Linked DNA regions of Homo sapiens: region 2 is linked to region 1. The links come from fine-mapping of genetic effects on gene expression. A gene starts in region 1. The other region holds a variant in brackets. All regions are shown on one strand. Distances are from middle to middle.

Region 1 (16,918 bases):
GTCTGCCTCCCCTACTGAACTGTGAATTCCCTGAGCATAAAGCCATAAACTCCTCTGTCTATGGAGCTGGGCTCAGTGCTTAACTTCTAGAATAGGCTCGATAAATACATATTGAATGAAAGAATGTTAATAGATTGAAACTCAAGATTGTTTGGAGAGATGCAAGGGGCAGCATATTGCTGACCAAAGTGACAGGTTTGGGTAGGTTTCAGTATGTCAATGGGTTTTTCATAAAGTAGACCTTCTTAACTATCTTATGAATCAGGAACGAATAGCCTTCAAATCTGGTCATCTCCAGAGCCCAATTCCCTACTGCCAAATTGCAGCAGTCATGGTGGCTCACGCCTGTAATCCCAACACTTTGGGAGGCTGAGGCCAGTAGATCACCTGAGGTCACGAGTTCAAGACCAGCCTAACCAACATGGAGAAACCCCGACTCTACTAAAAATACAAAATTAGCCGGGTGTGGTGGCACATGCCTGTAATCCCAGCTACTCGGGAAGCTGAGGCAGGAGAATCGCTTGAAACTGGGAGGCAGAGGTTGCGGTGAGCCGAGATCACGCCATTGCACTCCAACCTGGGCAACAAGAGCGAAACTGTCTCAAAAAAAAATTAGCTGGGCGTACTGGCGCACGCCTGCAGTCCCAGCTACTGGGGAGGCTGAGGCAGGAGAATCGCTTGAACCCAGGAGGCGGAGGTTGCAGTGAGCCGAGATCGCACCACTGCACTCCAGCCTGGTGACAGAGTGAGACTCTGTCTCAAAAAAAAAAAAAAAAAAAAAAAAGTCATCAGGAAATGTTGGAAGGGTCTTAAGCAATAAGGGTCTTTGTTAAAGGAAAACCCTTCACTCTTTTTCTCATCTAAAGCAATAGAAGCATTCATTTTAGAGGACCAGGTCTCCCATCATCCACTGCTATATAAATTCTCAGTGCGGAATTTTTCCAATCTATTTAGTACAGAAAGAGAGACACCAACCCTCCTGGGACTGGAGGAAGCAGAGAGGACTGATTTTCTTCTAAGCCGTGGTGTTGCTGTATCTCAAAACCCATCTTCCTGTAACCTTGAAGGCTAACTTTCCAACATTATGCTTCACTGGAATCATTCTAATGTAAAGCCTGTGAGTGATTATCTCACACTGTGAGCACAAAGATTGTTTAAACTTGAAGCTGTTCTTCATGTCCCTTAGCCAAGAGGCAACCTCCTTCGCCTTTAAATTCATAAGAGCCGCAGAGCTGATTCCTTTTTTGTGCCAAAGGAGTTGCCTTTAATGATTACCTCTGAAAAACCAAAGCAGATGATTTTTTTTCACAGTTCCCTTCAAAGCACGCCAATCCTGGCCCTGCTAGAATTCATTCCTTCAAGGTCTGAATCCCTGTAGCCTACCCAGTTATGCCTCTCTTCACAGTCTGGGACCCCCAGGAGCATCCTGGCTTTCTGGCCAGGCAGGTTATTACAACTGCATTCAGTCCATCTGTCTAGAATGATTAAAAAAATAGTAATAAAATAAGTGGTTCACACTAATTTAGGTACCAAACTCTACAAAGTTCTATTCCTGTGAAATGTGTGGTATTATCTCCATTTTGCACATAAAATACTGATGTTGAGATTATTTGGCACTTTGCCTGGAGAGGATTACCAGCATAGATCTGTCTTAATTCCCATAATATATAGGATGAAACTGAAGATCTGAAAGAGACTCATTGTCCCCAAATCACACAGTACTTGGATGTGCCAATTCAGAGTGGGAGGGCCAGACTTCAACCCAGGTCTTTTTTTTATTGTTAATTTTTAATTTTTGTGGGTACATAGTGGGTATACATGTTTATGGGGTACATGAGATATTCTGATACAGGCATGCAATGCATAATAATCACATTGGGGTAAATGGGGTGTCCATTACCTCAAGCATTTATCGTTCTTTGTGTTACAAACAATCCAGTTATACTCCTTTAGTTATTTTTAAATGTACAATAAATTATTATTGACTGTAGTCACCTTGCTGTGCAATCAAATACTATACATATATATATATATATATTTTTTTTTTTTTTTTTTTTTTGAGACGGAGTCTCGCTCTGTCAGCCAGGCTGGAGTGTAGTGGTGTGATCTTGGCTCACTGCAACCTCCGCCTCCTGGGTTCAAGCAATTCTCTGCCTCAGCCTCCCGAGTAGCTGGGATTACAGTTGCTCGCCTCCATGCCTGGCTAATTTTTTTGTATTTTTAGTAGAGATGGGGTTTCACCATCTTGGCCAGGCTGGTCTTGAACTCCTGACCTGGTGATCCACCCGCCTTGGCCTCCCAAAGTGCTGGGATTACAGGCATGAGCCACTGCGCCCGGCCAAATACTATATTTTATTCATTCTATCTAACTATATTTTTGTACCCATTAACCATCCCCCTTTCTCCCCTGCCACACTATCTTTCCCAACTATGCTTCCCTTCCCTGGTAGCCATTGTCCTACTTTCTATCTCCATGAGTTCAGTCATTTTAATTTTTAGCTCCCACAAATACATGACAACATGTAAAGGTTGCCTTTCTGTGCCTGGCTTATTTCATTTAACATAATGACCTCAAGTTCCATTCATGTTGTTGCAAAGGACAGGATCCCATTCTTTTTTATGGCTGACTAGTACTCCATTGAGTGTATGTACCACATTTTCTTTATCCATTCATCTGTTGATGGACACTTAGGTTGCTTCTAAATTGTGCTGCAATAAACATGGGAGTACAGATACCTCTTCCATGTACTGATTTCCTTTCTTTTGGGTATGTACCTAGCAGTGAGATTGCTGGGTCATATAAATATATTTATATTTTATATTTTATATATTTATATTATATAAGCATACTTATAAACATATATACAATAAATATTTCTGGAATATTCTATGAATGAATGGGTGAATAAACCTTGAATGCAATGCTTCAACCACTTCACATTTTTAATTAAACTATTAATTTTGAAGTAATTATTTATTCATATACAGTTATAAGAAATCATAGAGAAATTATACCTTTTACTCAGAGTCCTCAATGATATTATTAATAATTTCCATTTCCACCAACAGTGTATGAGGGTTCTCTTTTCTCCATATCCTTACCAGTATTTGTTATTGTCTGTCTTTTGGATAAAAGCCATTTTAACCGAGGTGAAATAATATGTCATTGTAGGTTTGATTTGCATTTCTCTGATGATAATGTTCAGCATTGTATCATATACCTGTTGGTCATTTGTTTGTCTTCTTTTGAGAAATGTCTGTTCAGATCTTTTGCCCATTTTAAAATCAGTATTTTTTTCCTGTGGAGTTTGAGCTTCTTATATATTTTGGTTATTAATCACTTGCCAGATGGGTAGTTTGCAAATATTTTCTCCCATTCTGTGGGTTCCATATTCACTTTATTGGCTGTTTCCTATGCTGTGCAGAAGCTTTTTAACTTGATGTGATCCCATTTGTCCACTTTTGCTTTGGTTGCCTGTGCTTGTGGGATATTACTCAAGAAATCTGGCTGGGTACAGTGGCTCACGCCTGTAATCCCAGCACTTTGGGAGGCCAAGGTGGGCAGATCACCTGAGGTCAGGAGTTTGAGACCAGCCTGGTCAACATGGTGAAACCCTGGACCCTACTAAAAATACAAAATTAGTCAGGTGTGGTGGAGCACACCTGTAATCCCAGCTAGTCAGGAGGCTGAGGCAGGAGAATCGCTTGAACCCAGGATGCAGAGGTTACAGTAAGCCAAGATTGTGCCATTGCACTCCAGCCTGGGTGACAAGAGTGAAACTCCATCTCAAAAAAAAAAAAAAAAAAAAGAAGTCTTTGTCCAGTCCAATGTCCTGCAGAGTTTCTCCCAATGTTTTCTTGTAGTACTTTGATAGTCTAAAGTCTTAGATTTAAGTCTGTAATCCATTTTGATTTTTTATATAGTGAGAGATAGGGGTCTAGTTTTGTTCTTCTGCATATGGATATCCAGTTTTCCCAGCACCATTTACTGAAGAGACTGTCCTTTTTCTAATGTATGCCTTTGGCACCTTTGTCGAAAATGAGTTCACTGTAGATATATAGATTTGTTTCTGGGTTCTCTATTCTGTTCCATTGGACTATGTGTCTGTTTTTATGCCAGTGTCATGCTGTGTTGGTTACTATGGCTCTGTAAATCAAGTAATGTGATTCCTCCAGTTTTATTCTTTTTGCTCAGGATAGCTTTGGCTTTTCTGTGCCTTTTGTGGTTTCATGTACATTTTTAGGACTGTCTTTTCTATTTCTGTGAAGAATGTCATTGGTATTTTGATGAGGATTGCATTGAACCTGTAGATTGCTTTGGGTAGTATGGACTTTTTTTTTTTTTTTTTTTTTTTTGAGACGGAGTCTCGCTCTGTCGCCCAGGCTGGAGTGCAGTGGCGCAATCTCGGCTCACTGCAAGCTCCGCCTCCCGGGTTCCTGAGCCATTCTCCTGCCTCAGCCTCCTGAGTAGCTGGAACTACAGGCGCCTGCCACCCCGCCTGGCTAATTTTTTGTATTTTTAGTAGAGACGGGGTTTCACCGTGTTAGCCAGGATGGTCTCAATCTCCTGACCTCGTGATCCACCTGCCTCGGCCTCCCAAAGTGCTGGGATTACAGGCATGAGCCACCGCGCCCGGCCAGTATGGACATTTTAACAGTATTGATTCTTCCAATCCATGTACCTGCAAACCCAGGTTTTAGACTGCCAAACCTAGGTCATTTTCACAAGATTGTGATTTTGTCCTGTAGACAAAATCTGCATTTTTTTGAGAAATGCATAGATCTGAGAATCATTGTAAATTTTTAACTTCAAGAATGGATCTTTTCTTGCTCTTTCCTCCCTCCCTAAAGCCTGCATTTTCTCCACAGGTTCTTGCTCTATCACCCAGGCTGGAGTGCAGTGGTACAATCATGACTCACTGCAGCCTTGACCTCCCAGGCTCAGGTGATCCTCCCACCTCAGCCTCCCAAGTAGCTGGGATTACAGGTGCATGCCACCACACCCAGCTAATTTTTTGTATTTCTTGTAGAGACAGGATTTTGCCATGTTGCCCGGGCTAATCTAAAAGTCTTGGGCTCAAGTGATCCACCCACCTTGGCCTTCCAAAGTGCTGGGATTACAGGTGTGAGCCACTGTGCCTGGCCAAAATACAACCTTATCTAAGTGCTAGGTGTTTTGCTAGGCTCACCCCCATATCTAAGCCTATTCTTAGGCTATTATCCAAGTGGGAGTCTCTGCAAAGTCACCTATCTTCCAGGGCCTTGTTTGCTGCCACCTCCTCCACGAAGCCCTCCTGATCATACCAGACCACATGCCTCATCATGTTTCTCTCTCACACACAGTTTTTGTAGGTAGCATTAACATATAATACTTTCTGTCTTCTTTCTATCCTCTCTACCAGAAGCAACTTCTACTCCAAGGTATGCACTGCTGGCCAGAATCCAGGAATTCTGGCTGTGATGGTCTTGTCCTCATACATCTCAGAGCTGCTAGTTTTGTATTTAGAATCTTCTAACTGTTCATTGACATTTGAAAGCTGTTACTTGTCTTTCTTTAGGAAGTCCCCTTGGGCACCCAGCTCACAATCTTCTCCAGCTAAATCTGGATGCAGCCTGTGATTTCAACCCCCTTTGGAGGTCCTGTCCATAATACTTCATCTTCCTCATTTCCAGGAACTGCCAACCCTCCACTATAATCCTGTGGCCTCACCTTGGAGCTTATCGTTGGAAACTCTTTCACAACCATAGGTCTCAAGTCCCAGATCCCACTCTTGGGGCATAATGGCCATTACTTCATTTATTTTCATTCCCTAATAAACAGATTTTCTCTTCAATTTCTTCAAAACCTTGGTTCCCTTGATTCCTCCACTGTCTATAACATCTTAGCTTCCTTCTAGTCATATTTCCTCAAGTACCTGGATCCTTTGTCCTCCCATCAAACCCACCCTACAACTTCAATATGGATATTCCATCAGACTGCTGAGGGATGCTGTGTAACCACAACTGTGCAGACTAAGCCAGTTTAAGCTTGTGGCAACCATTCTTAGTTGGGCCCTTAATTAGGCCAGGCAACCTTTTAAATGTTCTTGATCAGCTTCCTCTCTCATTTTTCTCAACAGCTTTTGGAGGCCTTCATCACTTTTTCCCAACTCTTTACCAAATTCCCACTCTGCTTGTCCAGCAGACACCTGATCTTCCCTTCAGAGCAAACAGGCCATCATGGCACCCTCCCTTACTTTATTGGCCCACTCTGTAAGCTCCCTTCATCCTCATTTCCTTCCAGTCTCCAATGAAAAGCTGTCCCTCTGCTCTAAGTTAGCCCAACCATCTGCTCACCTGATCCCATCCAGCCCTAGAAAGCACACACTCAACTTTGCTTCTCTATCCCTCTCCTCTTTACTGCCAAGCATCTAGGAAAATTAACTTACATATGCGTTCCATGCTTGTCTCCTCCCTCTTGTTCTTAAAGTCACCTCTGTGCAAGGTCTGTTCCCATCACTCGTTGAAAAGTCCTCAGCAAATGTCAGCCATGACCTTTGTATACAGTGTGCTCTTCATTTCCCTTCTTTCCTGGCCTTTCCATAACATTTTCGACATTGCGAATCCTGCTCTCCCACACTCTGCTGATTCTTCCACTTCTCTCATTTTCCCTTCTCAGTTCACACCACTGGCTTCTTTTTCTTTGCTGTGTTCATAAATAGTGTTTCACTAGGATTCTATCCTGAGCCCTTTTCTCTTCTTACCTTTCCTGGCCAACTGTTTCTACTGACATGGATTTTACTATATTGAACCATGACTAAATTGTTATTTTCAGCCTAGACTTTTTGCCAAGCTCCAGGCACCTATATATTCAAAAATCCACCCAAAGTTTCACTTGAATGTCTAAAACAGGAATTCATTTTCTTCTTTAATTTATTTCTTCAGTTCCTATCTCAAAAATGATTATGATTATGGTGATAATATTTACTAATTCCTTACTATGTGCCAGGCACTGTTCTAATCACTTTATGGATATTGACTTTAGTTGTCACAGGAATACTATAAGGTAGGTATTATTCTCACTTTACAAGAGAGGAAATAAACACAAACTTAGTATTTCAGTGAGTGACATTGTCCTTCACCTGAATACCCAGTTCAGAGACCCAAAAAGAATCTAGATTTTTCTTCCTCCTTCTTTATGTTTAATCCAGCATCAAATCTCTTTGACTCTTCCATTTGAGTTTCTCTGGCTTGATTCCATCTTCTCTATTTATTGTTCTCCAGAATCTGTGCCCTTGCCTTAATTCAGGCCCTCATCATTGCTCAACAGATTCTTAAAATAGTGTCCTAACTGATCTTCACACCTTCAATCTTAGCTCTCTGCACCCCCAATACAATCATTCCCCACTCTCTTCCAGAGTGGTCTTTCTGCAGTGCAAACTTGATCCCAGTACTGTGCTACATAAAGTCTTTCTGTGGCTCCCCTCACCTACCTCATAGCTCTGTCTGCACGGCACTCAAGACACCCACGTACCCTCATCTGCTGCCCACTGCATGGCATTTCAGCTTCATCTCCTACGCTTCCCTACTTTCACTTCAGATATTCCATATACCTCCCTGAATGCCAAGTGCAAAAACTTTACTTACGCACTTTTCTCTGCCTGGAATATCCCCTACCATTTCTTTGAACTATTCATACTTCAACAGTGCTGTCTTACATGACAGCCATTAGCCATATGTGGCTACAAGCACTTGTCGTTAATCTGAATTAAGGTGTGTCGTGTTGTTAAGTGGAAACATGGAATTTTGAGACATAGTATGAAAAAAGTATAAAATGTATCAATAATTTTATACTGATTTTACATTGAAAAGATAATATTTTGGATACATTGAGTTAAATAAAATATATTATTAAAGTTTTTTTCTGTTTCTACCTTTTTAATGTGGCTACATTACAATTACACATGTGGCTTGAATTTGAGGCTCATGATATATTTTAATTAAACAACAATCTTTCAAAATCCTTACCCAGTAAACTTAACCAATGAGGCAAAATAACTGTACACTGAAAACTACAAAATGCTGCTGAGAAATTAAGGAAGACATAAATAAGTGAAAAGACATGCCATGTTCATGGATTGGAAGACTTAATATCATTAACATGAAAATACTAATTAAAGTTATATACAGGTTTACTGCAATCCCTATCAAAATCTCAATATCATTTTTGGCAGACCTAAAAAGATCCTAAAACTGGTATGGAATCTCAGTAAGCCCTGAATAGCCAAAACAATCTTGAAAAAAAAAAAAAAAAAAAGAGAACAAAGTTGGAGGTCTCAAACTTCCTGATTTCAAAACTTCCTGATTTCAAAGCTACAATAATTCAAACAATGTGGTACTGGCATAAAGACAGACATACAGACCAATGGAGTGAAATAGCCGAAAAAAAAAAAAAAACTCTCATATATACGGTCAACTGATCTTCAACAGGGGAGCCAAGACCATTCAATGGGGAAAGGATAGTTTCTTCAACAAATGGTGCTAGGAAGACTGGATATCTACACATAAAAGAATGAAACTGGGCATTTATCTTCTACAATACACAAAAATTAACTCGAAGTATATTAAAGACCTAAATGTAAGTTTTATAGCTAAAACTATAAAACTCTTAAAAGAAAATATAGAGGAAAAGCTTCATGACACTGGATTTGGCAATGATTTATTGGATACGACACCAAAAGCACAAGCACAGACAATATAAGTAAAAATAGATAAACTGGACTACATCAAAATTTAAAATGTCAGTGCATCAAAGAACACAATCAACAGAGTGAAAAAGGAAACCTACAGAATGGAAGAAAATATTTGCAAGTCATATATCTGATAGGTTAATATTCAGAATATGTAAAGAACTCCTACAACTCAACAACCACAACAACAAAAACCTTATTTAAAAATAGAGGACTTGAATAGATCTTTCTCCAAAGAGGGTATACAAATGACCAACAAGCACTTGAAAAGATGCTCAATATCACTAATTATTAAGGGAGGGCAATAAAAACTACCATGAGATATCACTCCTTACCCACTAGGATGGCTATTATCTAAAAAACAGAAAAAGTATCAGTGGGGATTTGGAGAAATTGGAACCGCTGGGCACTGTTGTTGGAAATATGAAATGGTGCAGCCACTATGGAAAACAGTATGACAGTTCCTCAAAAAATTAAACATAGAATTACCATAAGATCCAGCAATACCACTTCTGGATATACATATATATACCGAAAAGAATTGAAAGCAGGTCCTGAAGAGATCTTTGTACACCCATGTTCCCAGCAACATTATTTCCAGTAGCCAAAAGGTGGCGCAACCCAAATGTCCACTGTTAGATAGATGAATGGATAAACAAAATTCATATCCATACAATAGAATATTATTCAGTCTTAAAAGGAAGGGAATTCTAACACATACAACCTGGATGAGCTTTGAAAACATTCTAAGTGAAATAAGCCAGTCACAGAAAGACAAATCCTCTATTATTTCACTTATATGATGTATCTAGAGTAGTCAAACTAATTGAAACAAAGTAGCACAGTGGTTGCCAGCATCTGGATGGAGATTGAAAGGGGAGTTTAATGAGCATAAAGTTTCAGTTTTGCAAAATGATAAAGTTCTGCAGATCGGTTGCACAGTAATGTGCATATATAGTTAACACTACTGAACTGTACATTTAAAAACGGTTACAGTGGTAAATTTTGTTACATACATTTTATGTTACATGTATTTTACCACAATTAAATATTTTTTAAAAATCCTTCCCCAGGTATCACTCCCCCTCCTCCCTGCTTCTGTGTGAATTAACAACTCCCTCCTTTGCACCTCTACATTATCTTGCGTATACCACCATTATGGCTCTTATTACATTTTTGGTAATTACGTGTTTGACAGGATAAGGGTTACTGTCCCATTTGCCCCATCCTGGGACAGGTGAATACTTATCCACTCCTGGGGTCCTGACTAGAAGCTAGGAAAATATACTAGGGTCTTTGGCAAGACAGAGAAAAGAGGCAGTGACCCCTATGGCATAATTGGCTAAAGAGGACCGTCGTTATCAGCAAGAATATATCTTGGATCTTGTAGATGTTTCACTCTGAGGCTGGACCTGGAAGGACCATTTTTCTTCAACAATCCTTTTATAGGCAGGCTCTGACAAACCTAAGTAACACTTCTTTCCTCCCTCAACACACAAAAACATCTTCTCCATTATGAGGACAGCCAGCTGAAATGACTGGTCATACCTGGTCTGACCCACAGGAGGGAAAAGAGAAAGATGTTCATTCAAGATGGATTCAAGGGCCGGGCACAGTGGCTCACGCCTGCAATCCCACCACTTTGGGAGGCCAAGGCTGGCGGATCACAAGGTCAGGAGATCGAGACCATCCTGGCTAACGCAGTGAAACCCCCGTCTCTACTAAAAATACAAAAAAAAAAAAAAAAAAAAAAATAGCCGGGCGTGGTGGCGGGCACCTGTAGTCCCAGCTACTCGGGAGGCTGAGGCAGGAGAATGGCGTGAACCCGGGAGGCAGATCTTGCAGTGAGCCGAGATCAGGCCTCTGCACACCAGCCTGGGCAACAGAGCGAGACTCCGTCTCAAAAACAAAAACAAACAAACAAACAAAAGATGGATTCAAGATAGAACAGCTGACCTAATAAGGTTCTCAGGGGGGACAATAAGGAACTATTTTTGCTTCCCTTAGACTCCTTGTATGTAAGTTTGATACCTAATTAAATTTTTTTTTCCGATAATGGACTGTAACTTTCTGCCCTTCCAAGGTCATAGTCAAGAGGTTACATTTGTTTGCTCCATCTTTGCTTCTAGATGGGAGCTCCTTTAGGGGCGGGACCAGACTTTATTCATCCTTGGATCCCCTGTGCCCACTGGTCCTGGCACATAGCAGATGCCCAATAAATGCCAAATAAATGACTGAATGTTTAGAATGAGGGTCTTTACAGCATTGAGCCTTTCCAATAACCCGGAGAGAGGCTTTTGGCCGAGCAACTAGTCTACCCCAGAGAGAAAGGACAGTCTGAACTAGAGAGCCACAGGGAGTAGGAAGGTCTGCTGGGTATGGGGAGCAGAGGGAGCATGAGAAGAAAACGTGGTTCATTACATAGCCCAGGTTGAACAGACAGATGAAAATCGCACCCTCCAGCTTCATGTTCCACTGTCTGACTGGTCATTATATAGGGCCGACATTTATCTGGTCTCCAGGCAAATTCTATAATTTCAGCTCCGTCTGAAGCAACACAGTAACACTGACTCAGTGGCCTAGATTCCACAAGTGCCACATACCTTGCTTTAGCTTAAATCAGGCATTGTTTTGTCTGGCTGCTAGGACTGGCTCAGGTCTGCTAACAATAAGATGCTTATGCATGGCCCTTTCATGCAGTCAGTCTTTTAAATTTTTTTGCCTCTCTTGAAATCCTGGAAATGATTCCTAACAACGGTTAATCTAAAAATCAGCTGGTTTTGGTCAATATAATGGCGCCCCTTCGAACTCACATTCATGGAATATGGAAGCTGGAAGGAAGAGTAGAAACTAGTTCTGCTTCTCAGGTAAGGAAATCCGTGCCCAGAGAGTTGGGCTGGGTTCCAGCCAGTTAAAACTAGAACTCAGAGATGCTGTCCCGAGCCCTTTTACTTCTGCTGCCTGCCCGCAATTGCGGTCACACCTGCTTCAGACACTTCCAGCTCAATCCTCCCTCCATTTTCTGTGCAACTAGGGTCCTCTCTGGAGAGCTCTTAAGCCATCAGCTCTAGGAGAGAAGTGGGCAGACACAAATCTTTCACAGGTTAATTTTCCTTGGAACATTCTGGGTGATTTTTTTGTAAAGCCCGATTCTCAATGGTGTTGATTTCAGGGTAGTGTTCCTCACTGAGAGCTAAGGAGGCGTTGCAGAAGTGCGCTGATTAGCTAGAATTGACCATAAACAGAGTGGCGCGGCGGATGGGCAAAGGGTGGGCAGCGAACTGGCCCAAATCATCTGTGCATCACCTCACAAGCACCAACTGAGCACTTACTGTGTGCCTGGGTAATCCACAGCTGCCTAATTAAGAACGAGCAGCTGCCTTCCAACCCTCCCCTGGCCCGAGGAGCCCTACTAACTGGCAGATTGAGGGACTTCTGATTCTCATCGTGGGTCTGGCCTTAACTAGGGTCGCGACTCCAAGCAAGTATTTAAAATTCTCCAACCCAGGTGGCCTGAGGCTTGAGAAGAAATAAAAGGCTTCTCAAAGGGATGACAGTTTCGGGAAGTTTTTTTTTGGGGGGGGGACTGGAAAAATACCATAAAAGGCATTTTGGGGGTCACACACACACAAGAGCAGAAGCGCTGTGAGCCGCCCTGCAGGCTCCCTGCCCCGGGAGCCACCTTCCACCCGCCCCCGGGCGGAGGCGGCCAACTCCCGCCCAGCGGGCTCCCCAGTTCGGCCCCGAAAAGCCGAAAGGGGGGCGCCTTTGTCTATAAGCGCCGCACGGGCGCTCCTGATTGGCTGTAGCTAAGCAGGGCTTTCTTCCGCGCTCCTTCGGAGCGCTCCCTCCAGCGTCGCCGGCCCCGTTCCATTTTCACAGCTCCTCCTCCCCGGCCGCGCGCCCCTCCCGCCCCGCGCGCGCCTCCTCTTTCTCGCGGCCGAGTTCAGCCCGGGCAGCCATATGGGGGATACGCCAGCAACAGACGCCGGCCGCCAAGATCTGCATCCCTAGGCCACGCTAAGACCCTGGGGAAGAGCGCAGGAGCCCGGGAGAAGGGCTGGAAGGAGGGGACTGGACGTGCGGAGAATTCCCCCCTAAAAGGCAGAAGCCCCCGCCCCCACCCTCGAGCTCCGCTCGGGCAGAGCGCCTGCCTGCCTGCCGCTGCTGCGGGCGCCCACCTCGCCCAGCCATGCCAGGCCCGGCCACCGACGCGGGGAAGATCCCTTTCTGCGACGCCAAGGAAGAAATCCGTGCCGGGCTCGAAAGCTCTGAGGGCGGCGGCGGCCCGGAGAGGCCAGGCGCGCGCGGGCAGCGGCAGAACATCGTCTGGAGGAATGTCGTCCTGATGAGCTTGCTCCACTTGGGGGCCGTGTACTCCCTGGTGCTCATCCCCAAAGCCAAGCCACTCACTCTGCTCTGGGGTAAGTCCCGCCGGCGCCCCCTGCGCCCCGGCCTCCGTGGCCAGGCCGCGCTGGGGCGCGCGAGGTCGCCGCTCGCCCCTCGGCTGCGGGCGGTGCGCAGCGACCCCCGGTCTCCCCTCGCCTCCCGCTGCGCGCCGCGGCCCCCTTGGCATCCAGTTTTCCGTCCCTTGGGACGGGCAGGTGTTTCTGTCCCAGTATTTCAACTTCCGCCCCCCCCCCGCCCCCACCCCGCCGCGGTCTGCCTGAGGAAGCGCATTTGCCGGCTTCCCGATGGAGAGCCGGGGGGGACCCGGAGTCCTGCGGTGCCACCGCTGTGCGCAGAGGCGCGCGAAGGGAGAGGCTCGGCACAGGCTGAATCGGCTCCCAGCGAGGGAGGACGGGCGGGCGATTGTGTCACCTCTGCGGTCCCTGGGGCTCTCCTATCCCCCCCATCACCTCCGCGGGTCACGGACCTTGGGGACAGAGATGAGGACAAGTAAGGGAGTTGGACCGGGGAGGAGAGACCCGGCACAGGATAGAGTCTTGGTTTACGCGCACCAGATGGAAGATACCGGTTCCCCTCTTGCCTCTCCAAGGCCCCTGTCCCTGCCCCCTCCGCAATCTTCTATGCCCATTTGCAGTTCTCGGTGAAGTTTCTCGGTGAGCAAACCGATCCCATGGCGAGAGCGGTCTGACCCTAGCACGAAGCTCCGACTGTGGCTGTGCAGAGCCTTCTCCAAACCCTGTTCCCATGTGGCCAGTGGGAACCTGTGGCTCTCCTGGTACCCTCCTTCCGTGCACCCCCACTCCTGCCAGTAGGGAAGGGAGCCCGGGCGCCGACCACCATTCCCCTTCCCCTGGGCCCCAGGGACTGCGTGCCCACCCTACACGACCCCAGTCGTTGATCTTTGAACCACTTCGCAGCCGCCCTGGCCGCAATAACTGGTTTTGGCCTCCTTTACTGAAGCGGCAGTAGCCAGGACAAAAGGCACAGGCATTGATATGCTGAGTGAGAATTTGACGAGGTAATCCAAGATGCCCTTCCAGCTCCCGTTTCCCTGATCTCTAGGGGCGGGCAGGAGAAACACAACCTACTTTTATTTCCAGAGGGGAAGAGGAAGGAAGAAAATAAGACCTCTTTCTACAGGGCTTTTTTGGCATGGTGCCAGCTGCAAATGCCTAGGTAGATAATGGGGCCACTATGGTTCCAAGCCTTCCCTTGAAATCCTGCAGTCCCTGCTCTTGGAAGTAAACCCATCCAGAAGTGGGTACCTCTTAGGGGGTGTGGCTCAGGGAGGGCATAGCAGAGTTGACGGATGGTGAGAGAGGTAGGATCTTTGGGGATCCCTAAAGCCTTTAAAGTCTCCCCAAAGCTCTGGGAAATCTCCTGCTTCATCTTTCCTTCTCTCAGTGCACCTCCTCATTTCTGTGTCCTTTTCACCATCACCTTTATGTGTTGGTTTAATTCTCCAACTGACTGTAGACTGTATGATGTTCAGCTGTTGCTTCATCAACACACTCCGACACTGCCAACCAAAGCCCTTATTGCCCAGAGTTCTCCAACAAGCTCCTCTCTCCCCCCTGCTTCCAGAGGCAGGGCTGGGCTTGGTCCTCAGAGCCTGGTGACCTCTAGGGGATTGAGGCTTATCTTTAATAGCTGTGGTGTTCAGAGAGTGCTCAGGGAAAAGTGAGCACTTAAAATATTATCTTACATGCCTAGGGCTCACTGGCTCCACTTCTTACAGCCTCTGAGCCCCAAGACCCTGGCACTGGACCAGGAGCCACAAGGACAAGGCCCCTCTCTCCAAGTTTGCCAGGTCACCTCTGCCCTTTCCGGACCGCTCTCTGTGGTGAAGATAGAACCTTTGTTCTGAAAGATCTTGGCTTAGAGGACACCTCCCAGGCCCCAGTGTCCTCTAGCTTCCTTAGAGAAGTTAACACACTGAAGGAATCTGGTTTCCCCTTTGTGACTCATGTCCCAAACCCCATTCCATACCTTCCTGGATAAATTCTGCCTGTGCTTCATCTGCTATTTCCTAAGTCTTTTTTTTTTTTTTGAGACAGAGTCTCGCTCTGTCGCCCAGGCTGGAGTGCAGTGGTGCGATCTCGGCTCACCGCAAGCTCCGCCTCCTGGGTTCACACCATTCTCCTGCTTCAGCCTCCCAAGTAGTTGGGATTACAGGTGCCCGCCACCACGCCCGGCTAATTTTTTGTATTTTTAGTAGAGATGGGGTTTCACCGTGTTAGCCAGGATGGTCTCAATCTCCTGACCTCGTGATCCACCCACCTCAGCCTCCTAAACTGCTGGAATTACAGGCGTGAGCCACTGCGCCCGGCCCGTAAGTCTTAATTCTCTCCCCACCTTCATTGCCTCCCTAAAAAAAAAAATAGCAGACAATGGTAGATATTAGAGTTTTAAGGTCCAAAATTGTGACTTAGAAACAGTCCAAACAATGGGTCTTATCTGATGAATAGCTACTGCCTCTGCTGCTTTTTTTTTTTTTTTTTTTTTTTTTTGTGAGACAGGGTCTTGCTGGAGTGCAGTGGCACGATCATAGCTCACTGCAGTCTCAGTCTCCTGGGCTCAAGCAATGCTCCCACCGCAGCCTCCCAAGTAGCTGGGACTACAGGTGTGCACCACCACACCTGGCTATTTTCTTTTTCATTTTTTTGTAGAGATGGGGGTCTCACCATGTTGCCCAGGCCGGTCTTGAATTCCTGGGCTCAAGCAGTCCTCCCAAAGTACTGGGATTACAGGCGTGAGCCACTGTACCCAGTCTCATGAATAGCTTTTGAGGGAAGAAATGAGGGACAATCAGAGACCAGCTAAGATCAGCTGTGCTGATGGCTAGGCTACATAGTAAGCAGAGGGACGAGGCAGACCACTGACTCAGGGTTATTTTCAGTGAAAGCCCTGGTGCCTTGATCCACAAATTTCCCCCCACTGAAGGCCCTTTTTCACCACCTCCCTACTGGTTATGTGTAGCATTAGGGCCAAGTTCATGCCCCAGTGGGCTGCTCATGCACTTCAAGGACCTGACTTGTAGAGGAAATAGGCTTAGCCTGTCCATTGCTTGCCACCCTCCACACCAGATGAGGTTGTGCTGGAAACAAGAGGCATCTATGCAGTGCACCCAGCAGGGGATGTGTTGGATGTGCAGTGTGCAGAGAGTAATTTGTGTGGTGGTAAAATGTCATCCGTGAAAGAGCCATCAAATTGTTAGTTCATCAAGTTGTTAGTTCTCCTTGGGGCCAGAGCATGTTGTTTTCCCTTTTTATCCTTTTCGTTTTATGAGTGGGCAGGCTGTCAGGACAGAATGCTCTTGGTGCCCCCAGGTCCTCAGCAATGCGTTCATGACTTTCAAGGACAGAAAGCGGCCGGGCATGGTGGCTCACGCCTATAATCCCAGCAGTTTGGGAGGCCGAGGCGGGCTGATCACAAGGTCAGGAGATCGAGACCATCCTCGCTAACACGGTGAAACCCCATCTCTACTAAAAAAAATACAAAAATTAGCCGGGCGTGGTGGTGGGCACCTGTAGTCCCAGCTACTCGGGAGGCTGAGGCAGGAGAATGGCGTGAACCTGGGAGGTGGAGCTTGCAGGGAGCCGAGATTGCGCCACTGCACTCCAGCCTAGGCGACAGAGTGAGACTCCGTCTCAAAAAAAAAAAAAAAAATGGACAGAATGCAAACTCCAACTAGAGGAAAAACCTGCATCTGAAGGCTTGAGCTCACAAAAATGCCTGCTTGAGAGTTTCTGGCCAAAGGGACAGTTAGTCAATGCCCT
Region 2 (8,000 bases), 49 kb after region 1:
TTTTTGTTTTTGGAGAGACAGGGATCTTGATATATTGCCCAGTCTGGTGTTCAACTCCTGGCCTCAAGTGATCTTCCCATCTTGGCCTCCCAAAGTGTTGGGATTACAGATGTGAGACACTGCACCCCACTGGTTGTAGTGTTCTGTGGGCCTCCCCCTCTCCCAGGAGGTGAACAGCTTGCTCTGGATTCACTGTCATCCTCTGAACGTCTCCAGAGTCCTCCAGATTGTTTCTACTTATTCCTCACAGAGATGCACTCACTAACCCAGTCTCTTGGAAATGGGGTGCAATCACCCCACCAGCTGATCTGTTTTCTGTTGTTTACTTTTTTGACTTCTCCAGAGCAGCCAAATGAACATCATCTTCAAGATAATCTTGGCGTAGCCGTTAATGGATTCTGCACTGCAAAAGTGTTTGAAGCCAGTGGCTGTACTTTAAAAAAATGCATCCTGTTGGTATTTTTCATGTGTTAGGACTCTCTTTTCCTGAAGTTTATATAGGGCTTAGGATGTTCCAGGTACAAAGCTAAGGACCATATGTTATTTTGTTCATTCTTCACAATACCTCTGATGGAGGTACTAAAATCATCCCCATTTTGCAGACGAGGCTCTACAAGATAAGTGATTTGACCAAGGTCACATGGCCAGTAAGTGCGGGAGCCGGGATATGTGCCCAGCACTTTCACTCCAGAGTCCTTAACCACCTCACCCACAATAATAGATTTGGGTTTGAATACCAGTGCAGTCACTTACTAGCTGTGTGGCTTCAGGCAGTATAATTCCCGTCTCTGGATTTTGGTTTCCTCAGCTGTAAAATGCGAATAGAAAGACCTCCCTCACGGGGGCAATTCAATTCAGTTGAATTGAATGCTAGGTACTGAGGGTCTAAAGAGATGAGCCCCACCCTTAAGGCCCACAGGGTCTCATTGTGTTTGGGTGAGTGTGAAATGCACAGGGCTATGGGAACCCAGGGTGAAGAGCCCTCCTGGGTTCGGGGTCCTGGGAAGCCATCTGAAGGAGATGATGACTGGATCAAGACCTAAAGGACTTTTCCACAGAAGAACCACACAGACAAAGGCATAGAACTTTGCAACAGCAGGATGGAGATGAATTGCAACTCAGGGTAACCAGAGAGTGACGGGAAAGGAGATGGGAGAGGAGAGACTGAAAGCGAGGATGGAGAGAGGGTGGGGAAGGCTCCTTATGTGTCACACTAAGAAGTTTGGGTTTTCCCTCTGTGGAAGGTGAGGTGCCATGGAAGGGTTTTGAGAATGGGAGTGGGATCACATGTAGTGGCTCACGCCTATAATCCCAGCACTTTGAGAGGTCAAGGTGGGAGGATTACTTGAGCCCAGGAGGCAGAGGCTGTGGTGAGCCAAGATTGCGCCACAACACTCCAGCCTGGGTGACAGAGGGAGATCCTCTCTCAACAACAACAACAGTTTGGTTTCATGTCTTGATATGCAGTGTGGGTGGCTCTATGGAGGATGGATTTGAGGGGGGCAAGACTACAGACAAGGAGACCAAGGAGGGAGATGTTGTGTTGGTTCTAGTGAGAGATGGTGAGGGCGGCTACAAGTAGGAAAGAGCATGGAATGGAGAGGACTTTGAACTTGACAGGTCCTGATAATTGCATGGACGGGGGGAGGGGGGTGGGGGAGGAACAGTCTTAGCTAATGCTGCCTCAGCTTCCCGAGTAACTGGGATTACAGGTGCACACCACCACACCTGGCTAATTTTGTATTTTTAGTAGAGATGGGGTTTCACCATGTTGGCCAGGCTGGTCTTGAACTCCTGACCTCAAGTGATCCACCTGCCTCAGCCTCCCAAAGTGCTGGGATTACAGGCGTGAGCCACCTTGCCCAGCCTAAAGAGGTTTTATAGATAAGAAAGTTGAGGCATAGAGAGGCTAAGTGACTTGGCTGAATGGCACATGGCTAGCAAGTAACCAACTGGGACTCACAGCCGTGTAGTTTAACTCCAGCGCCTGCTCTCATCATCACTGTGCCATGCCTGTCCTGACTGGTCCAGGAGGGCAGGAGAGGGGGTCTCGATGACCCACCATCCCCACCACTGCTGCCACCAGCAGGAATTTTACTTGGGTGACCGAGTGGGTGATGGTGCCATTGACTGATGATTCTAGAAGGGAGTGGAGAGAGATGCTGGTTTCCATATTACACCTGCTTAGTGTGATGTGCCTGTGGACACCCAGAGGAGGAAGGCATCTCAGGCTGTGCCCTTCCTCCTGGAGCCTCTTGTCACTGAGCCACAGGGCCTCTACACCAACACTAAATCACTATACTGCTTTCCATTTAGATGACAATTTGATTTAAACAAATTCTGGTGGTGCAGGGTCAAAATTTTTCATAATCTGAAGTGATTTTTCTCTGTTTCCAGTCCACTGACTGGATGGCAGATTAAAATGTGAGGGTTTGACAAAAAGATAATGGAGCCGTGCCAGCCTTTAGTGTTTCAGGCATAAAATTAAATTCAACATGGTATCATGCATTTGAAGACTTGTCATCATAAGGCTGGCCAGACAAATATGCTTTAGAGGGTTTGGTTTTGAGAATGAGTAGGAGAAATAAAATATGAAATATGATAATAGTGGAGACTAGACGTATTTTGAAAAACATTATCTGATGGTGTTAAGCCATCCTTTTTGAGCGCATTGTTTAATGCTGCCTTCTTTTCTGCCTGTTTGACCAAGGGACTCTGAAGTGTTGGACAGGTTCCACTACTGAAATATGCAAATTTAACATTCCCTCTCCCCACATCTACACCACCCCTTTCTTTCTTTCTTTTCTGTTTTTTGAGACAGTCTTGCTCTGTCGCCCAGGCTGGAGTGCAGTGGTGTGATCTCAGCTCACTGCAACCTCCGCCTCCCAGGTTCAAATGATTCCCCTGCCTCAGCCTCCCAAGTAGCTGGAATTACAGGCGTGTGCCACCATGCCTAGTTAATTTTTGTATTTTTAGTAGACACTGGGTTTTGCCATGTTGGCCAGGCTGGTCTCAAACTCCTGGCCTCAGGTGATCTGCCTGCCTCAGCCTCCCAAAGTGCTGGGATTACAGGCATGAGCCACCATGCCTGGCCCCTTTCTTTCATCTCTCCTAATTTTTTCGACATTCTCCTACCCATTTTCTCCTTTCCTGGGCCTTCAATTTGTGCCCACCTCCACCCCCATCCTCACCCCCCATCTTCTTGTTAGCTGCATAGTTTGGTCTGGCTATAGACTTTCCAAGTTCTGAAGGTAAAACTGACATCAAGTTCTTCCCATCTGGTCTACTGAGTGCACCCTGCAACCTTAGCCTAGGCACTTTGGCACCTTCTGTTTTAGCGGCTGTCTCTGTCCATGGTGGGCTTGGTGTCTTGTTGCTTCTGTTCCTCTGAGTGAAGTGTTCAAAGCCTCAGACTCCTGAGGCTCAGCTCTGTGCCCTGGCCTTCGAGGCTTGTCACTTCTGCCGATATAAGAAGTGAAATATAGGTCAGCCTCACAGATCCCAGTGTTAAAAATAAAAGCTTCATCCCCAGGCTCTGCAGGTCTGTAGATTGGCATGGGTTCCCCCACTTTCCAGCAACCACTCTTCTAAATTGCTTCTTGGAGCTTAGTACTGATGCCATCCGCTATGCAAGAGGGAACCTGAAAATAGAAGAGGAGCTGAGATCGTCTCCCTTGGCAAATGCCATTCCAAAATGTGAAGATTGCCTGAATGGAAATTGTAAATAGCAGCACTGAGCAGGTTTCCTCCCTGTCGGGTTAGGAGGGTGGGCTGCTGGTGAGGGGAGGGTGGGTCCTGGGGGGAGCCTGGAAGGAGTCCCTCTCCCTCTTAGGACCACCCAGACCCCTCCTGTGGCAGCCAAGTGACCACGCACTGAGATTCCTAAGTATTTTGATGAAAGGACTTCTCCTCCCTCTCTCTGCTTTCCCATTCTTAGTCCTTGCATTTGAGCTTTCTCAGAAGATTTAGCTGCTTTTCTGTGATATGAAAACTGAGGAGGTTGAAAAGCAGGGCCTTTGAATTTATTTTTAGTATCTGCACATTTCTCTCTTCCTGCATTCTCTCACTTTCTTCTCTCCCTTCTCCTTTCTCTTCTGATTTCCCGCTTTCTCTCCCTGCACTGTCATTCTCTTTTGCCCTTCTTAACTCCTGCAAAACGGGGAGATAAGTTTTCCTCCACATAAGAAGCCAGGGCCTCTGAGAAGCTTGTCTTTGAACAGATGCCTCAGCCTTGCCCCTTTCTCAGGTCTCATTTTTCGGGCGAGTCTGTGCTTGACAAGAGACTGCGTTATCTTGTGGGAGGACCCTAAGGAGCCAGGGTACTTGACATTTAAAGCTTTTCATAAACAGTGTCTTCAGTGCTTGGCAAACCTTGAACCCTCCCAGCTGGCAGCAACGAGGCTTTCTCATCAGGACTGGCTCAGCCTCGG[A/G]TGTGACATTTTCCCAGGGCCTCAAGGAAATGGAATACGCCCTGTCTGCCTTTTAATCCCTCTCAGTTGGATTTTCATAGACTTCTGTCAGGGGGGTATGTGCTGGCTGCTTTTCCTATAAACTGGAGTCAGGGGAAAAGGGGAAGATGGCTGAGGGGGGAGGCAAATATGGATGCATTTAATACACATTTGGCAGGTCAAGCAGAAATATCATTGGTTACATAGTTTTTTGATGCTATCCTCCAGGCCAAATTAAATGACTTCTTTGGGAGTAGAGAAGGGCTTAAAAACAGTGATTTGGGTGACACCCTATGAACATTCTAACCTGAAACCCTTCCCCGCAGGTGACTCAGCCCACAAAGAGCCACACTCCTGGCAGATGTGGGAAATGGACACTATCACTGTCAGAGTCCACCCGCGTGACTCTGGGGCGCACTGCTTTGTGCCTTTAAATTCAGCCCTGCCACTGGCTTATGTCATGACCTTGGGCTACTCAGGCTGTCTGCACAATGAGCCAGTTGGACAGGAGCAGTGCCACTCAACTCTGGCCATACACAGAACCCCCCACCCCCACCCCAGGGAGCTTTTAACACACATAGCCATCTAGAGAATGTGGATTAATTTGGTCTCAGGTGAGGCTTGGGTGGCTGTAAAAGCTCCCCAGGTAACTCTCACATGAAGTAGGTGAGACATGCTCCCTAGACACATGTCTCTCAAACTGGAATGTGCACAGGAATCACATAGGATCTTGCTAAAATGCAGACTCCAGTCCTGTGGTTTTCAGTGGGGCTGGGGATTCTTCTCTTCCCATGTGCTCCTGGGCAAACTGATGGTGTGGGTCCCCAGAACACACTCTGCACAGCCAAAGTCTGGATGGTCTTTAAGGTCCCTGCAGTTCCTTACTGAGTTTTCTTGGTGAGGAGAGGGCAGGGAATTAAGTAAAAGATATATTTTAATGGTAGCAAAGAGGACCTCCCTTTTATCACTGGGGTAAAGTCATGTCATTTTTGGGAAAATGTGATGCAGTATTTGGTGGGTAGGATTCAATTTGTATCCATTTTCAACACTGGAGTAAGTTTATTTAGGGGGAAAAAGGGAAACAGATGTAGCTGTGTGTGTGAAGAATGGGGAAGAGAGAGAAGCGTGAAAGAACTGAGTGGATGTGTGTGTGCTCACAGGGCGAGGATTCCATGCAAACAAATACATAGGCTTCTCCAGGTCCAGTTTTGGTGAGGGGACAGGAAAAGGGACAGATATTGTTCAGCTGGGATTTAAGGTGAAGATCATGCTCCCTGGAACAACCCAAAGGCTGGAAGATTCCATCTCCTCAGCCCCATCTCTTTCTGGTGCTAAGCAGCCATTTGTTCCAATTATCCTTGAATTATAGTGACAGCTTTTGGTTTATGCAGGCCTTCAAATCATCCTAACCTAGTAGAAGAAGTAAAATGATGCCTTTATTGACAAGAACATTTCAGCTGGCTGGTTTTAAAAGACTCTCTTCTTCCCACCTATTCCCACGTCCCTGTGCTTCCACCTCACTAAGAGCCACAGACACCATTTTGGAGTGTCAAGATCTTGCCTGATTTTGCATATATATATATATATATAATTTTTTAAAATTCAAGGTCAACCTTGAGAGATATTGCTTGTATTCTGCCTTCTGTTTTCCCTAATCCTTATAGAACTACAAATTCCCATACATGAGCAGATTTTCCTGGTTTAAAATTATATTTAACTAAAGTTAAATACTTCAGGCCTTGTGATGGTGATTCTCCTGCCCACAGACTTATGGGGATTTCTTTTGCTTTAAAGCAGGTCTTTAACAGGGCAGTATTTCTTGCTAAAATCCACAATCCAGGGTTTTGTCACTGTTCTATTTTTAGAAATTCTTCCAATTTGTAGTCTAAAGGAGAGGAATGTTTTTCTAACAAAGATATTTTCCAATCTAGAGAAAAGAGGCTGGGCGTGGTGGCTCACGCCTGTAATCCCAGCACTTTGGGAGGCGGAAACTGGCAGATCACAAGGTCAGGAGATCAAGACCAGCCTGGCCAACATGGTGAAACCCCATCTCTTCTAAAAATACAAAAATCAGCTTGGCGTAGTGGCGCGTGCCTGTAATCCCAGCTACTCGGTAGGCTGAGGCAGGAGAATTGCTTGAACCAGGGAGTCAAAGGTTGCAGTGCGCGGAGATTGCACCAGTGCACTCCAGCCTGGTGACAGAACAAGACTCCGTCTCAAAAAAATAACTAACTAACTAAATAAAAGTAAAAGATTCAAAAGATTTTAAAGTTATTAATCCTTGTGCTCTGAAACAGACATTTATAACTTTAAAACAGCATATATAGGGACCTTACCTCCCTGACTGATGTACATAGGATTTGGCTTTTCTCAGTCCTAAGAGATTTAAAGATTTAGTGAAACATAAAGAACATATTTTAAGCAATATCAATATGCAGGCCCAATGTAAATGTCCCCATGAATGTCGAATGCAAGTAGTTAGTCCTCAAACTCCTCTTCTCTTAGCCGGGTATGGTGGTGCATGCCTGTAGTCCTAGCTACTAAGGAGGCTGATGTGGGAGGATTGCTTGAGGCCAGGAGTTAGAGGCTGCAGTGAGCTATGATCACGCCACTGCACTCCAGCCTGAGCGACAGAGTGAGACTCTGTCTCTAAAATACAAGTTAAATGAAAAACTCCTGTTCTGTGTCACACATTTGTTGATTTTGCTCATTTATTTATTCCACCGATACTTATTATGGGCTTATTGTATGCTTTATGATGGGTTTACACAGCTCTTTGTGAAGCCCTGAAGATACCATGGAAAACAAAAACAGACCTTGTTCTCATGAAATTTGAAGACTGGGGAGGAAGACATAGTCACAGAGGTTAATATGTAAGTGCTGTGAGAGGAGGGAACACGGATCTAAGAGCATATAACCAAGAAACCAGCCTAGCCTGGGCTGACTTGCTGAATGTTTCACTAGTTGGGGAACTCTGGGAAAGGTAAGTTCTTTGGCATTTGCTGCCCAAGGTTTAGAGGAACTCTGTGCTAGAGAGCCCTTGGCAAACAACTTCACTTTGGCCTTAAACATGAGATTCACTACCTGTAAAATGGACTTCTGAGTCCTCCCTACCTGTCCACCTAGCAGACCGTTTCGTCAGAGCTTCCTCTTCTCCAACAGTGCTTTCTTTTAAACAGACATAATGAACTGCCTTTTGGTTTCATGACTTTTTTTTTTTTTTGCTACAAGCAGCTCTCTTGTGGCTGGCAAAAGTAAAGCCATATTCTCGAGGACTCAAAAGACTCTCCATGGCTTCCCTGGATCTTGAAGAACATTTTTTCTCCAAGTAATTTTATTAGCCTGGGTGGACACTTGCAGTCAGTGTCACCATTACATTCTTAATCTTTACAAAGTGTGCTTATTTGCTTCTAATTTTGAATGTCTTTTTATTCCCTTTACTTCTTGCATGTGTGAAGAAGTAATTGTTACACAGATGTTTTGGAGATAGTGTTTGGTCCTGTGTTACTCCTGCAGGGTGTAGGTAGCTCCTCCTTGTTCTCAGTCTGTCGA

Evidence for each region.
Region 2: its variant is fine-mapped to the expression of SCD5 in spleen (GTEx, PIP above 0.99).

What each region holds. Positions count from the first base shown.
Region 1 is chr4:82,794,541-82,811,458 of GRCh38, reverse strand. It overlaps SCD5 (stearoyl-CoA desaturase 5), which reads left to right and starts at 12,663. Exons shown (of 5, transcript NM_001037582.3): 1 at 12,663-13,153. The coding sequence starts at 12,922. RefSeq lists enhancers at 11,505-12,221, 12,222-12,939, 13,916-14,437 and silencers at 12,308-12,727, 13,058-13,107.
Region 2 is chr4:82,750,312-82,758,311 of GRCh38, reverse strand. The region is part of intron 1 of SCD5 (stearoyl-CoA desaturase 5); the gene reads left to right. MIR575 (microRNA 575) reads left to right here and starts at 4,882; the gene lies at 4,882-4,975. The variant A/G (reference allele first, on the strand shown) is at 4,431.